Linked DNA regions of Homo sapiens: region 1 is linked to region 2. A link means that fine-mapping ties the variant in region 2 to the expression of a gene that starts in the linked region. Tissue or cell type: testis. Region 2 holds a variant in brackets; the other region holds the start of a gene. All regions are shown on one strand. Distances are from middle to middle.

Region 1 (8,103 bases), 33 kb before region 2:
CGAGTAGTTGGGATTACAGGCATGTGCCACCACGCCCGGCTAATTTTGTATTTTTAGTAGAGAACAGGGTTTCTCCATGTTGGCCAGGCTGGTCTTGAACTCCTGGCCTCAAGTGATCCACCCATCTCAGCCTCCCAAAGTGCTGGGATTACAGGCGTGAGGCACAGCACTGGCCAATTTTATTTATTATTATTATTTTTTAAATTATTTTTTATTTTTATTTTTGAGATAGTCTGTCACCCAGGCTAGAGTGCAGTGGCTGCAGTCACTGCAGCCTCCACCTCCTGGGTTCAAGCAATTCTCCTGCCTCAGCCTCCTTAGTAGCTGGGACTACAGGCACACGCCACCACACCCAGCTAATTTTTGTATTTTTAGTAGAGATGGAGTTTCACCATGTTGGCCAGGCTGTCTCAAACTTCTGACCTCAAGTGATCCACCCGCCTCGGCCTCCCAAAGTGCTGGGATTACAGGCATGAGCCACCGTACCTGGCCTAAAATACTGGTTTTTAACCTATGAAGTTGGCAATGATTTTGAAAAATTGTAAAAGTTACACAGTGTTTTGGAAAACTAGGACTATCAGGTGATTGTGCTGGGAAGGCAATCTGTATATATGTGTGTATATGTTGTGTATGTGTATATTTGTGTGTCTGTATATATGTGTGTAGGTATATGTATACATATGTGTGTATGTGTATTATGTATTTAAGTATATGTATATTAGTGTGTTTGTGTATGTGTGTAGGTATACACATACACATACACAGAGTATATATGTTTCAGAAGAGCCTTAAAATACTGATATCCTATTGATCTAGAAATTCAACTCTTCAAAATTTGGCATAAGGAAATAATCATTGATGTTTATGGGATGTTTTGGCTATAAGGATATTTATTACTCACATTCCTTATAATAATGAAATACTGGTAGCAATATTTATGTCCAACAGTAGGGGTTGGTTAAACATGATGGTCTAACCATATAGTGGGATGCTAAAATTCATGTTAAGTGTACGGGCCACGGGAAAGTTTCTCCTTGCCCTCTGAAGATTTACTGAAAAATCAACTCACAAAAAGCAGATTAATTGAAGAAAAGGCATACAAATTTTATGAATGTGTGCACAGGGAGAATTACAGAATGATTTCCCACCACCCAACAAGGTTCAGAAGCTTGTAGACCATCTTGGCAAAACAACTTACAGGAGGGGAGAAAGAGGAATTCTTTCAAGGGGCAATAAAGGATTACTAGGGAGAAGGAATGGATCAGGGCACAGAGATTAACTTGTACGCTATCCTATGAAAGGGTCTTTTCAGGTGTGGTTACATTCTTGGTCTTACAGGGAGGGCAAGAAAAACAGTTGTTCTCCTTGGAGGGTCTGGACTTTAAGCAGATAAAGACATTTTCTGTTTTGGGAGAAACCAGTGGGGAGGGAGATCAGAGAGACCTTGAGACTTCTTCAGTTCAGCTTGTTAAAGTGCCATATTTTGGGGTTATTGGTTTCTGAACCAGATTTTATGTCAGTAAACATGTATTCCTTATGTTTAAAAGAATGCTTATTTAGGCCAGGCATGGTGGCTCACGCCTGTAACCCCAGCACTTTGGGAGGCTGAGGCAGGCAGATCACCTGAGGTTGGGAGTTTGAGACCAGCCTGACCAACATGGGGAAACCCTGTCTCTACTAAAAATAGAAGAATTAGCCAGGTGTGGTAGTGGGCGCCTGTAGTCCCAGCTACTGGGAGGCTGAGGCAGAATTGCTTGAACCCGGGAAGTGGAGGTTGCAGTGAGCCAAGATCTCGCCATTGCACTCTGGCCTGGGTGACAGGGCAAGACCCTGTCTCAAACAAACAAAGAAAAAATTCTTTTAGTTTGATCTCCTTCATTTCATTACTCCCTTGAATCAGGCATTTAGGATTTAGGATTTCCCATTCCTCAAACTCTTCCTAACTCTGGTCCTCCTGGATTTGTCCTTATTTTGGGTGTCACAAGTTCGCGTGGCTTTACCTATCAGCTCCCATTTACAGAGCATTAATTATCTTCTGAACTCAAGGTAGCAGTTATGAATTTCTTTACCGAAGAGGACAAGGAGGCTCAGAAACATTGACTGGATTCTCCCAGGAGGAAAAGAGACCATGCATCACGCAATGTTTACTAACATTTAAAAATAGTTACAAATGTTTACAAATATTAATTCATTTAATCTTCACAGAGAGGAAGGGACTTATTTTTAGCCTTATTTTTCAAATAAGGAACTGTGGCCCTGGAAAGGTTCTATCTTGCAGGGGCTCCTGGGGCTGGTAATTGGTGGAGCCCAGATTCCAACACAGGTATTCTGGCTTCAGAGCTAAGGTTTTAATCACTGCTTTGCTGTCTTGTATTCTTAATAGTAGTAAACATTTTTAAATAGTGGTTGTTAATGATATTTTACTTTTAACTTTAATTTTATTTTTAAAAATGAAACGGGCGGGGCGGGCAGGGGGTCATCTCAATATGTTGCCCAGGCTGATCTCAAACTCCTGGGCTCAATCGATCCTCCTGCCTCGGCCTCCCAAAGTGGTGGGATTACAGACGTGAGCCACTGCGTTCGGCCAGTGATATTTAATATAATACTAAAAATGTTATCAACAATGGTTTACATTGTCCAGAGCTTTTTATTAAGCATTTTCACTTAGATCATTTTTGGAAACTCATTTTGCAGAGAGAAGAACTGAAGCTGAAAAATCTACCTGCCTAAGGACTCATAACTTGTAAGAATAGTTGTGAAACCTCACTGGAGGAACTGCAGATTCATTATTTTTCTTAATAACACACTATAAAGAATAATAAAAGTGCTTCGCATTGCCTAGAGCTTCACAAGGCCACTTTATACACATTTTACAATGGGTACCGTCTCAGAGAGGCCAGCAACTCGTCCAACACAGCACTGCAAGTAAGAAGTAGGAAAGTTATTGTTTTGCTTAATAATAAGGCCTTACGCTTCAGGGCTAAAGAAAAGCCTTTTCTTACAGAAATTAAACTCCAATTACAGAAAGGTGTGAAGTTCAGTAAGGCCCTGGGGCAGGTTATCCTACAGCTTTTGGCACCGCAGGCACCGCCCGGCGAGTTCCGGCCTCCAGGCACCTGGGCAGGTGGGCGTTGGGCGGGCTGCGGGCTGACCTGGGCCGCCCCGCCCCCACCCCGCCCCAGCTGTCCCCGGGCTGCTCCGAGAGGACCCCGGGCCCACCTTACCCCACCTCACCCCACCTCCACCCCTGGAGCGCGTCCCGGAGCGGGCGGGCGGCCGGCGGGCCAGGCCCCTCCCCGGCGCCGAGCCGCGGCCGCGCGGAGGAAGCGAAGGAGGCGGGAGCGGAGACCTCGCTGCGCTCATGGCGTCGCCCGGGTGAGTGCCGCCTCGCAGGCCCTGCGCCCCCGCGGCTGCCGGCAGGAACGGGAGCGGGACCCGGAGCGGCTCTGGCCTGCGGGCTCTGGTCTGGGATGCGGCCCGGACCCGGCCAGGGGCGCCCCCGCCCGCCAGGCCCACCAGGCCCACGGCCCGCTCGCGCCGACCTTGGGCGGACCGGCCGCGCGGGCGTGGGGGGCGGGCGGGGGCGCCGGCGGAGGACAGCGGTCCCCCGGGATGCGGGGGTCCGGGTACGCGGGCCTAGGGGATCCGGGGAGGGCGCGAGGCCCGGAGGTGCCCGGGGCGCGGCGGGAGCGAGGGCCCGGCGAGCGGCTGGGGAACCGGGGTGCGGGTCCTCGCCGCGGCCCGGGGCAACCCGCGGAGGCCTGGAAATGCTTCGCTCCGGCGCCTGGTATCGATGTTCCTGGGTTTTAAACTTGCTCGCGTTGGGAGTGGACGCTTGTTTGCCGCGTCGTTGAGACGTACCCAGAATGTCAGGATCCGGGCAGATGCAGACCCTTTGCTGACAGCCGGAGAGCCGCTCCGGGATCTCCTTGGTCGGGGCCATTGCCTACCGGCCTGCCTTGGGGTGGCTGCGCTTATTTTGATATTACCTCTTTTCAACTTTTTTGATTTAAATGTTATTCCTTTTAGGAAATGATGGCGACACATATAGTTTGTAATTTTTGAGAAAAAATTCTCACTTGGCAAACTAAAACCTCAGTAATTCATTATTTTTTTGTTTTTTGTTTTGATAATTTTACTAGTACTGAAATTTGGGAATGACAGTCCAACACTTTCATTTTACAAAGAAAGAAATTAGGCTCAAGGTCATCGCTTTAGTTGTTAAAATTCTTCTTTGACTGTTACCCATCATTCAGAGGGTCTTGGATCTAGTGGCTGTGATAGCCATTCAGAACAGTTCCCAAAGAGCTTTACAGGTGTGTGTTCAGTGGTAGGGGTGGGGAGGGGACGGTGCTAAGGGGCCGGGATCATGGATTTCGTGCCTCCTCCAGATGAGGCCTGAGCCATGCCCTGGGGTGATTTGGCTCAGTACAGTGGGCCTGAATGAAGCAAGCTGAATTTGAACCCCGCCTGCTGTCTTTCTAGGCTTTGGGGCAGTGGTCATTTCCGGGACCAGGCCTTTTCATTGCCAGCTGACTACCCAGCACTTTGAGCTCATGAATAGAGTAAGCAGGGAACCATCCCTGGGAAGGCCAGGCTGATTGACCTAGGGGTTCAAGGTCCTGCAGCATTCCTTTCCCCCTTGTCAGGAAAGGGTGGGCAGAGCCTCCTGGAGGCAATGTTGAGGGTGGCTGAACCTGTGTGGGGCTGCCCTGAACGAAGCTTTAAAAAAAAAAAAAATAGTGGTGCATTTGGTGCCCAAGTACACTACTTTGTAGACATGGGTCAGAGGTGGACTTAATGCTTCACTGGTGTTTCTGTGAGCCAGTAGGGCTTAAACTGTGTCCCTGTAGTTGGTGACATTTGGTATTTGCGGTTGTGATTATTTGTGTGACCCCCATGAGTCTGCAGTTTGTAATCTATAATTTTCTGCGGGATATCCATTGCAAAAGCTGAGGTCTCAAAACCTTTAGTATACAAGTCATGCACCACAAAATGACAGCGGAGGACCACGTTATATGACAGTGGTCCCATGCACAAATACTTATCATTGTGTTAGTTGCCTACAGTATTCATACTGTAACATGCTGTACAGGTTTGTAGCCTAAGAGCAACAGGCTGTACCATATTGCCTAGGTGCATAGTACACCTTACGATGTAGGTTTGTGTAAGTTTGCCCTATGATGCTCACACAAGGACCAAATTGCCAAATGACACATTTCTCAGAATGTATCCCTGTTGTTAAGTGACTCATGACTGTTGCTTTATTTCATTTTGTGGGGTAAGCTATGCACATATTATGTACACTGGCAGACATAGCTCCTAAGTGTCCACTTCTACAGGCTTCCCTGGTAGATCAGAGTCTAGCTAGGAAGACAGTGCTTTCTGAGACCCTCAGGGCTATCTCAGTCAGCCAGCTAGCAAACATTTAAGCTACTGCACTAGGTATCTTAGGGAGCAAGTCCACAGATAAAGGGCAGGGATGGGAAGGGACTGGTGATCTGGACTGGGCTAGTCATAGAGGAGTCTCCAAATTGATGTTTTTATTAAGTGACAATCTCCATGAGTTGGGAAGGAAAGAAGAAACGCTGACCATTTTTGAGGACCTTATGAATATGCCAGGCATTGTGCTAAATAAAGGAAATGGCAATCAAAGGATATGAAGGCATCAAAGGAAAAGATGTGTTTGAGAAATGCCCCATGGCCCAGTGTGTTTGGAGCTAAGTGGAGACAAGTTCAGAGGATGAGACTGGGACCAGATGATGGGACCTGGTCCCGTTTGTGGACTCACTGCCCACCACTCGCTGAAGGTAAATGAAACTATTTGCATTGGTGGAGCTCTCAGAGAATCAATGTGACAGCAGTATAGAGACGGCAGAGAGGGCAGAAGACAGGGAGCAGCTCATGCTGCCATCTCCCCTCTTTCGAACAGGCCTCACTCAACAGCTCATCTCTTGTCTTTGCCCCTTGCTTGGCTGTCTCACAACTGCCCAGATCTTCCTTGTCTGCCAGCTCCTCTGCCTGCTCTTTCACTGTTGGGGTTTCCTTGGGCTCTATAATCCATCTCCGCTAGTCCCAACACATGTTCTCTGCATGGTCACATCTGTTTTAGTGGCTTTAACTGTTGTCTGAATCAGAGGTTCTTAACTTAGGCTCCATGATTCATGGATGGGCTTCTGGGGGTCCCTTTGTTCTCTGAAATTGTATGCAGCATTGGGAGTAGTGTGTAATTTTCCTGGGCACAAGGTCTGTAGCTTTCAACAGATTTTCAAAGGGGCTCTTATCCTTAACAATGTTACAACTATTCATCCTAAATTTCCAGATTTTCATTTCCAACTACACTAGATACAGCTCCTCAAGTTTCTTTAACCTGGGTTAGCTGTGTGAAGTCTATATTTTTCAGATTGTTACTGATGGATAATTTGAAAAACAATAAATAAAGATCAAGTATAATTGGCTTTACATAGACCACCGATCTTAAAATCTTAAAAAGATTTTAAATAGTCACTTATTCTTATCAGAGTGACAGCTTTACAGAAACAACTAGCATCCCTCCTCCCTCCCATCTGAGTTTGGGGGGGTACCCTGACAGATGTTTTCCTTTGCATTTACATACTAAGTTTGTTCCTTGCTCTGTTTTTACATAAATGCTATCATACTGTTCTGCAGCTTGCTTATTTGCCCAACAATATGCCTTGAAATTCTTTCCATGCCAGAACAAGGAACAGATCCACATACATTTGTTTTTTGTTTTTGATTTACCTACATTTTTTTTCTCTCTTTCTCTTTCTCTCTCTCTCTTTTTTTTTTTTTTAATAGCAGTGGGGGTCTCATTATGTTGCCTATGTTGATCTTGAACTCCTGGGCTCAAGCCATCCTCCTGTCTCGGCCTCCCAAATTGCTGGAATTATAAGCACATTACACAGTGCCCAGTCTACCTACATTTTGACAGACATATAATATTCCATGGCATGGTTACATTATTCAGTTAAGAATGTTCCCGGTTTTCTCTAAGATAATGCTGCCCATCTGTGTCTCACTCTGGACATGTAGAGTACCTGCAAAGACTTGGACTGCTTGAGCAGAGGGCCTGCTTTTGTTTTTTGTTCTTCCTGCCTGTTGTAACTTGATGCTGCCAAATGATCCTCTTAAATGATTGTACCACCTTCCCTGCCACCACCAGATTTTAAGGATTCTCTGTACCTCCCAACACATGATGACATCATACATGAAAAGTTTTGCCTGCCTGATGGAATAATTGAGTCAAGAAATAGGATGCTAATGGCATCTTCGCTTACCCGGTCTTTAAAGATAGAAACTTCATCCCTGACCTCTGTATTCCCTTAGAAAGATTCCGCTTTTTTCTTTGATCCAGTGGGTAACAGCAAGTGAGTAAGTTGATCTCCATAAGTAACTCTCACTCCTCAGCGCTTTGTTTCAGAAAATATGGTCCCTTTCTGGCCAGGAGAAATGGAGTAAGACCTGCCCTAGAAGGGAGGAGCTCGGACACAGAATGGGTGGAAGGACCTGTGGGGTCCGAGTGGGGCTGTGGAGAATGCTTAGCTATATAGAGGTGGGACTCATGGTAGTGGATGAGGTGACTGAGTGATTGAAACCCAGGAATGTGTGGCTAATTGGGGTAGAGGAGAAGCCATCACTGGACGACAAACCCAAGGCCAGTTGTTCCTCTGTGGACTGAGTCCTTGCCTGAGGAAGGAGGGCACACGCACCTTGGCACCTGCCCCTCTTCTTCCCCCCTCCTCCTCCCTCTCCACCATCTTCTCCTCCCCCTTCCCTTCCCCTCCTCCTCCCTCTCCTCCTCCCTTCTCTGTTCTGTCTCCGTTCCTCCCCTCCACTCCTTTTCTTTCCTCTCGCCTGCTCCTCTCTCCTCCCCAGTGACCTCCTCAGGTCCTTTCCCCAGCCCACTGTTCCTTTAAACATTCAGCTGGAGACCTCATCCACCCTCCTGGCTGCTCCTCTCAGGAACATCTCGGCTCCTGGGAATTCTCAAGGACTCATCTACCTTGGAAGCTGAAAGCACCCCCATTAACATCCATTGGCTGTCAAAAGTACCTGACTTGACTTTTAACCTTTTGTCTTTGC
Region 2 (8,103 bases):
ATTGAAGAGATGCCTACTCGAAAACATCAGGAACGGCTTGTCGAACCAAAACAAAAACATCCAGCAGCTCATTGAGCTGGTGAGACGGCTGTGAGTGTGCAGAGAAACCCAGTTCAGGTGTAGGAGGCTGCTGTGGGCAGCCCTGTCTGATGGGGCACCCGTGTGGGGCTGTGCTCTGGTGCCTGAGAATGGCTGGTGCCCAATCGACATGAGAAGACGAGGAAAAGACAGGGTTTGGAGTCTCCTCAACAGTGTTAAAAGAGGAAGTGACCTCACAGACCAGCTCAGAGATGTTACCAAGAATATCACAGCCCCCAGGGTAGGGAGACAAGCAGCAGTTTGTTCTGTCTCAGCTCCTGTCAAGGATCCTGCGGGGTGGGCCCTCTGTATAGCTGCTCTCTGTCACTGGCCCCTGGAGTGGGAGCAGCGTCCTTAGTCACTGCAGGCCCAGGCGGGCAGGTGGTCCCAGGACAGAGGTGGGGAAGTTGTCCTGAGGAAGCAGAAGTAGGCCTTGCTCCCGCCCAACCCAAGGGCCTCCAGTGGACCAGCATTCAAGATGTGAGTGCCCGTGGTGTGCAAGGCACTCCCATGGCACCGTATTTATTGACTGATCTGTGAAGGCTTCCCTGACCCCTGCCCAGGAAGAGTTCACTGGTCGCTCTGTTGTGCCCCACAGCACTTTGTTATACCTCTGCCACACACTTCACGCAGCGCGTTGTAACTCATGTGTTTACATGTCTGTCCCCCCAGACTGTGAGCTCCTTGAGGGCAGGGACTGTACATTCTCCAGCTCTGTGTCCCCAGGGCCTGGCACATTGTAGACGCTTAATAAATGTCTGTTAAATGAATGAGTGCACAAGTGATGGTAATGGGCAGGTTCTGCCTCTCTGTGCCTTAATTCTCCTGTTTCTCAAAGAGGATAGCAGCATCTGTCTGAGGAGGGTGTACGGTACAGGCAGTATCTGGAATGGTAGATAGCACAGAGATGCACCACTTAAAAAAGCCATCCTGTTCCCTCTCTTTAAGGCAGGAGCCATTCTTCAGGCTGTTACTGGGGATTAAAACTAAATACCTTCACAGTAACTCTGAGGTCTTTCCACTGTCACCCCATTTCACAGTTGAGGAAAAGGAAGCCTAGAGCAGGTAATCCCCTGCCCCAGAGCTTACACCTGGATGGGCAGAGCTGGAGCGGATGAAGGGTGGTGCTGTCACGCCCAGCCCTGCATCTCTTCCTCTCATCCTCTCCAGACTCCCATGGCTTCTGGGCTCACCCCTGGGCAGCCATGTCAGTGCCAGCGCCTCCTCTTACATCCTCCCCGACCTCATCCACAGCCCACTTGCCACCATTCGAACCAGAGGCTTGGCCAAGGACTTGGTAGTTCTGCCCTGTCAGTTTTCCCGCTGGAGTCCTTGCCTGTGCTGGCCCTTCCCAGAGGCCAGTGTCACCTCACTGGGCCTCAGAACCCCACCTGAGCCCTTTCACCAGCTCTAGGAAGCTCTGCTTGATCCTCTGGGCCTTGCTTAGACCTTGGAGCCTCTTTCTCTTTGTGTTTCTTGACTTCAGAGAAACCAGGCCCTTCCCCAAGAGCTCCTACCATGTTTCTTGTCCTCCTTTCACTAGACACAGCAAGGGAGCCTTTAGCTCTCGGGAGCTCACCAGCCTTCTAGACTGGAATCCTTTCTTGAACAAAAGGCTTCCTGGTCCCTCTTCTGGAGATGCCTGGCAGGCTGCCTGCTGTGGATTTCTGGATTCCCCAGATGCTCCACCTGCTGCTCCCGGGACATCCAAACTGTTGCCTCCTGCGTTCCAGGAGCCTGGTTCTCTGCAAACCTGGTCTCTTAGTAATAAGTTTAGGAAAACCTTTCCCTTTTTCATTTTCCTGCTCTGTTGCCTGGGCTGGAATGCAGTGGCGCGATCTCACTGCAACCTCCACCTCCTGGGTTCCAGTGATTCTCAGCCTCCCAAGTAGCTGGGACTACAGGCGCCCACCATCACAAAAATACAAATAATTTTTGTATTTTTAGTACAGACAGGGTTTCACCACGTTGGCCAGGCTGGTCTCACACTTCTGGCCTCAAGTGATCCACCTGCCTCAGCCTCCCAAAGTGCTGGGATTACAGGAGTGAGCCACCGTACCCAGCCTCCTCCCACCCTTTTTGAAGGGTTGATGTTTCAAGTCTGTGAACTGTGGATGGGCCTTGCCTTTAGCCCTCCAGTCAGTGCTGCTCTTAGGATTCCAATGAACACAACACCCAGGACTTGCCTTTCATATCTGGAGCTCAAAATGCTCACCTTCAGGTCTGAGAAGCCCCAGAATTTGCCATGGGGCTACTGGACGGTCATGTCCTTGGAGCCAAGCTTAGTAGAGAGAGAGCCACCCAGAAAGGTGGACAGGGCGGCAGGCTGCTCACCAGAGCATGGCCGTGTGCTCACAAGGGGTCCTGTTTGATGAAAGTGTCAAACCAAGCAAGTACCATCTTGGAGGAAATGGGCCTGAAGAGTGCTTGGGACAAGGAACAAGCGTGTCTTCGCCTCTCTTGTGAGATGAGGTGTAGCTTGCTTCAGCACATTGGATGTCCGGCCTGGTTTTGAACCTCAGCCTTACTTCCTACTAATTATATGACCCTTTAGCAAAGTTACTTGGCTTCTCCAAGCCTTAGTTCCCCCTACTAGCGCCTGTGTAGGAATGGAAGGTGCTTATACAGTGCCTGCCCTGTGGTGGAAAAGCCAGTCTGTGCATGAGGTAAGTGAGGCACCCATCTCTGTGTCTACACCATTCTGCACACCCATGAGGTTTGTGGAGAGGAAACTGCCTTCTGCATCAGCCTCAAACATTTTAACATGTCAGATCAGGATTCATCTTTTAATCAATCAATGGTACCTTAAGATAATTTGCAGCCAGTTTTCCTTCTTAATGGTATGTAAAACAGCATCTTCTCATCGATACTATCTTAATTTACTGAAACAGCACCTAGCAGAACTGGTGGTGGTCTGCAGTTTATACAATATAAACCTGATCTGGTAACTACCCCAACTCCTCAGGTGTGGTGTATTAGCCCAGTAAAAGGGAAAATCCTCTTTCTGAGTCACTAATAAAATAATTTGGCCATAAACCTATCCTGATTTCTTCTAAGACTCCAACAAAATTTCACCAGAGTGCAGCTTTATGAGCACTGATGAGTCAGGGCTGTACAAGAGCCAAGATGACCTTGGTCCTGGTCTCCTGTCATTTCGTCAACCACACCCTCGCCCCGCCACATACACACTTTGGAGGCCATGGTTTCTTCCATGCTGCTGTCTGCCTGGGGGCCCCTTCTGCCTGTCTCTGGCCCTGGTTGACTGGCGGGCACATCTCTCAGAACAGCCTCTGGTGCCAGTCGCACCTCCATTTGTGCCCACCCAAGGGTTCAGAGGCCTTTCTGTGCCCTTCTTGGTCCTTAGCACATTTTCATTGTCTCCTCATCTGAGCCCATTATATCTAGATCTAGCAGTTTCTGGGAGCCAGGGAGTGGCAGTCTCAGGGGCTGGAGCTCATGAGCCCATCCCTCGGTCTTCTCTTTCTTGAGTCCGCACCCCCTCTATCCTAAGCACCAGTTTGGCTTCTTCAGGTTCTGACTTTTAGCCCAGGGTTCTGGTGTGGCACTGGGCATTTCTAATTGCCCATAGCTCTGATAACAGGGGAGTGGATTCCTTGGGACCGCAAAGCTGATGTCAGTAATTATAGCTGGGGACCTCACCCACCAAACCCAGCCCTTGTGCCTCACCAGAAGGAGAACAGAGGTGGGGGGATGGAGCAGGAGCTCACAGGGAAAACGGCTGAGCTGTCTTGGCAATCTGGTTTGACACGCCTCTCTGCTTTACTCATAGGGTTTCAGTTGTTTGACCTATTTCTCAGAATAGAGCTGAGAGCCTCTGGGATTTTTCCTAGTGAACGAGTTATTAGGAAAAAAAGAATCACAAGGAATAATGTAAAAACCATAGGTTTACAAAGTGTAAAGTGTCAGCAGTTCTGAGTTAGGATAAGTCAGCTGTAAAGAGAACCACCATGAGTGGAGTGATATCGGCTCACCCTGCAGCCAACAGGAAGGGAGATGTCACCCCACCGCCCCCAGGCTGGATTCTGAAACTCTTCAGGCTCTGGAAGTACAAGGGGGCTGACAGCTCCCTTTTACACAGTGTCTCTCCATGGCCCAGCCAGTGCTGTATCCCCTGAGCACTCTGGGTGAGCCCATGGTGGCTGTGCTGCACCCAACTGGACAGATCATCTCAAAGAAGTCCTGACCTCCCAGCAGACCCCTCCTCCCTTCTTCTGCCCTTGTGACCAAGAGTGGTGGGCGTGGACTATGGCTATGTTCCTTAGAGAGCTGCCATAATCTTCCAGGGGCATCCAACAGCACTCTCCCCGAAAGGGGGCTCTGCAAATACACATTTTGGGAGTCTCCCAAATAAACTGAGTGAGTTCAGGACACTGGTTCTCAGCCCCGACTGCAAATTGAAATCATCTAAGGGGCATTTTAA[A/C]AGTGTGAGTGCCTGCCCTCTCCCCACAGAGGTGGTGTGGAACCCAGGGGGCTCTGTCATGCAATTGCAAATCACTGCTTTGAGAGCATAGGAGCAACTTCTGGTTCTTGGTTATTATGTACAGAACAAAGGCTCATGTCAGAGAAAAAGCAGTTTTACATCCCTGTCTCTGCATTAGGCTCCAGGAAGGGTGCAGATGGGTCTTTCACATGGGGTCATATGCTCCTGGCCTTTCCATGTCCAGGCAGTCCTTGAGGGCCACTTGGGAGCTGTCTGCAGCAAGCCACAGAAACCCAGGCCATTCCCTGATCCTAACATGGTCTGAACCCTCACCCCCAGGAAGTGATACTGAAAGAGCACATGCTTTGGAGCAAAAAGGCCTGCTACCATTTACTACTTCTGTAACCTCAGGTGAGTCTGTGAGCCTCCATCTTCTGCTCTGTGAAGCCTGGAAATACTGCCTCCTTTATGGAATTAATAGGAGAAGGAAAGTGCATCAAAACAACAACAAATGGAAGTTACAGAAAAATAAAACATCCCCAGTCAGATTTTTCTGCTGATTATTTAAAACAATATAACATTCATACTGATGTATAAAAGTCATTTTAAGTAATTTTAATCATGTAAAGACCGACACGTCCCCTTTCCCCCAATCACAGTATAAACAAAGCTAATAAAGGATAGATAACAAGATATTTGAACCCCAGAAATGTCTGCCACTGAAATGGCCATTGTGATGCTTGGAAAGATCTAGATCGGTTTGGAATTCCAGAGAGAGATCTCAGGCATAAGGGAGAATGGCTTGAATAGAGGAAAGCATAAATTTGATCATTTGATTGCCTACTGCTTTATGGGCTAAACTTGATTCCCAACCACAGCCTTCGTGGTGTGGCCCCTGCCCACCTTGGGCCCCAATAGGTGTTGTGCCATTGCCACCTCTGCCTCTGATCAGCCCAAGGATCTTGTTTCCCTTTCTCCTTCCCCTTTCCTCTGATTAGGGTGGTGTTGCTATGAGTTCTCACAGAACCCTCAATAGCTGGCTCATCTCCCTAACGGGATATGTGGCTATCAGGGACTCGTTAAAAACAACAACAAAACCCACAACTGCTCTCTCCCTCTGCCAGGCACATCATACTGTACTTCTCACAACCACCATTATTGTCCCCAGTTTACAGATGAGAGAAACCGAGGCTCAGAAGGTTCAGTCACTTGTCCAAATTACACAGCCAGGAAGCATTGGGTCCACGATTTGGACTCAGGCAATTCAGATGCCACATCCCATGTTCCTCACCACCTTGGAGCAAATTAATGAAACTTAACAATTATAAAATTATTGAACATTATGAAAACTTTAAAAAATAATTGTCAGTTGAAAAGGATTTCTTAGGAAATGTTGAAAGTTCTTACATTTGCAAAGTATGCATTGGAGGGCACCTCATCCCTGTTCTGTCCCTTTATTCAATATGCATAACAGTTGGGGGCCGCAGTTCCTAAAAAGTAAGAATAAAACATTTCTGGTGAAGTGGACATGGAAGACCTTGTCCTTTTATTACGGGTTTTTTGAGAACCCACCTTCATGTAATCAGAGGAATCTTGGTCATGGGAAATGGGCTGGACTGAAGTCAAGAGACTTGTGTCTTGGTCCCTCTTTCCCTCTTCTCAGTGTGGTCATGGGCAACTCATTTCCACCGTTCTTCCATTTCCCCTTCCCATGGATCATAATCCAGTCCTCCCCCTGACAGGAAACCGCAGCAGTATGCAAGTACTGTACCATTAAGGGGAATGATGTAGACCCAGAACGGCCAAAACATTGGCAATTTCACATCACTCAACCAAACACAACCCATCATTGATTAAATATTCTCTTGATCCTAATAGCTCTATAAGGTAGTACTATTATTAAGGCCCATTTTATAGATAATAGAACTGAGTCTTAACTGTACAAAGATTGTTATACATGGGTCTGACTCCAGAGCCCGTGTTTTTTCCATGACCGTGGTGACTTCTAAAATAAAATATCCCGCGTTGCTATTTTTCCGTTTGACATTAATAATTACTGGATACCAATAATAGTGGCGACGCACTGGTTTCAGCATTACAGGCCCTGCGATATTCTCACGAATCTCCTTGCCCTCCGGCCCCTTCCCCGTACTTAAAATTTTCCTTCCTCAGGGGCCAGTCACCACTGTGGTCACATGTGGCAAACCCATTCTTGCATAACTGCGTAAGTCATCCTTGAAGAATTGGGTGACGTTTTAACCAAAATATGTTTCTTCTTTATTTGTGGATAAAAGTCTGGAGGGTTTTTCTGTTTTGTTTTTCTACGAATATTATTTGGAGGCATAACTAGGACCTGGGGAAACGCTTGGCTCCTCTTCGAGCCCCGAGGGTGCAGGTTGGGCAGGGCGGGCTCCGGTGGGCCGCACACCCATCACCCGTACTAGCGTGAGGTTGTCGAAGAGAAAATCTCACGTTTCGCATCCTCAAATTTCCGGATCTGAAACCCTATGCAAGCAGCAACCGCGGGAGAGCGAACAGCGGCGGGATGAGCATTCACAAGGCTGAGCATTCACAGGGCTGCGGGGAAGGCGGGAGTAACAGCTAGCAGCATACCGCGGCCCCGCCCCGCAGAGGCCCTGCCCCGCCCCCGCCAGAGTACAGAGTACGAGCTCCGACTTGGTCTCGTCCGCGGTCGTCCCCACCCCTCAGCGCGCTGTGGTACGTCCCGCGCTCCGCTTGGCCCAAGATGGCGGCCTCCGTGTGCAGCGGGTTGCTGGGGCCACGGGTGAGTGGGGCGACTCGGCAGGTCCCTGCGAGTCGGAGGTGGGGTCCCTAGTTTCCGCCTCACGCGCCCTCCCTCCACAGGTGCTGTCCTGGAGCCGAGAGCTGCCTTGCGCTTGGCGCGCCCTGCACACCTCCCCGGTCTGCGCCAAGGTGAGCACCGCCGGGGCAGGGGCCTGGGGGCCTGGGGGCCGGGGGGCCGGGGGCCGGGGAAGCCGTGCGGGCTGAAGGGGGCGTGTCGCTGGGGTCCGAGGCGGGGCTAGGGTCGGGGCTTAGGGATCAGGGGATTGGGGCCGGGGAACAGTGCCAGCTGACTGGGGGGACATGGCGCGAAGTAGGGGTCTGGATCGGGGATCTCGTGGAGTCACGGCCCCTTTTGCTCCTAGAACCGGGCGGCCCGAGTACGCGTAAGCAAGGGGGACAAGCCGGTGACCTACGAGGAGGCACACGCGCCGCACTACATCGCCCACCGTAAAGGCTGGCTGTCGCTGCACACAGGTGAGCGGACCCCAGGCCTCCAAAAGGAGCACTCAATCCGACTGTCATGTAAACAAAATGAACACGTGTCACAGGTTTTCTTTAACTCAGGAAATAATGCTAGGGTCAGAAATCTATGAAACCAACTCAAGGGAGACATAAAAAAGCAGAGATATATATAGATCAGGATGTTGAAACAAATTTGAAGATGGATGCAAAACTGACTTTTTCCATGGCAGGCAGGGACTCAATTGATCCTCCACTGAACAGAAATTATTTGCATGTCTACAGACAAGAATTATTTTGCATTCCTGTCAGTTATCTGT

Which allele goes with the higher level. Positions count from the first base shown, and alleles are read on the strand shown. Sizes are in standard deviations (SD) of each study's normalised expression.
In carriers of allele A in region 2, the expression in testis of the gene that starts at base 3,341 in region 1 tends to be higher than with C alone (small effect, 0.17 SD a copy in GTEx).

What was found. PIP is the estimated chance that this variant, and not a neighbour inherited with it, causes the effect.
Region 1: it holds the start of URGCP, and the variant in region 2 is fine-mapped to the expression of URGCP in testis (GTEx, PIP 0.94).

The regions. Positions count from the first base shown.
Region 1 is chr7:43,901,834-43,909,936 of GRCh38, reverse strand. It overlaps URGCP (upregulator of cell proliferation), which reads left to right and starts at 3,341. Exons shown (of 6, transcript NM_001077663.3): 1 at 3,341-3,375. The coding sequence starts at 3,362. URGCP-MRPS24 (URGCP-MRPS24 readthrough) reads left to right here and starts at 3,341. Exons shown (of 7, transcript NM_001204871.2): 1 at 3,341-3,375. The coding sequence starts at 3,362. RefSeq lists silencers at 2,916-3,075, 3,136-3,565.
Region 2 is chr7:43,868,658-43,876,760 of GRCh38, reverse strand. It overlaps URGCP-MRPS24 (URGCP-MRPS24 readthrough), which reads left to right. Exons shown (of 7, transcript NM_001204871.2): 5 at 7,385-7,453; 6 at 7,687-7,798. The coding sequence ends at 7,775. MRPS24 (mitochondrial ribosomal protein S24) reads left to right here and starts at 7,244. Exons shown (of 4, transcript NM_032014.3): 1 at 7,244-7,304; 2 at 7,385-7,453; 3 at 7,687-7,798. The coding sequence starts at 7,266. URGCP (upregulator of cell proliferation) reads left to right here. Exons shown (of 6, transcript NM_001077663.3): 6 at 1-848. The coding sequence ends at 94. It overlaps LOC124901620 (a long non-coding RNA gene), which reads right to left and starts at 7,115. Exons shown (of 2, transcript XR_007060296.1): 1 at 5,927-7,115; 2 at 5,119-5,813. RefSeq lists silencers at 4,670-4,845, 7,113-7,172, 7,473-7,532 and an enhancer at 6,763-6,882. The variant A/C (reference allele first, on the strand shown) is at 4,520.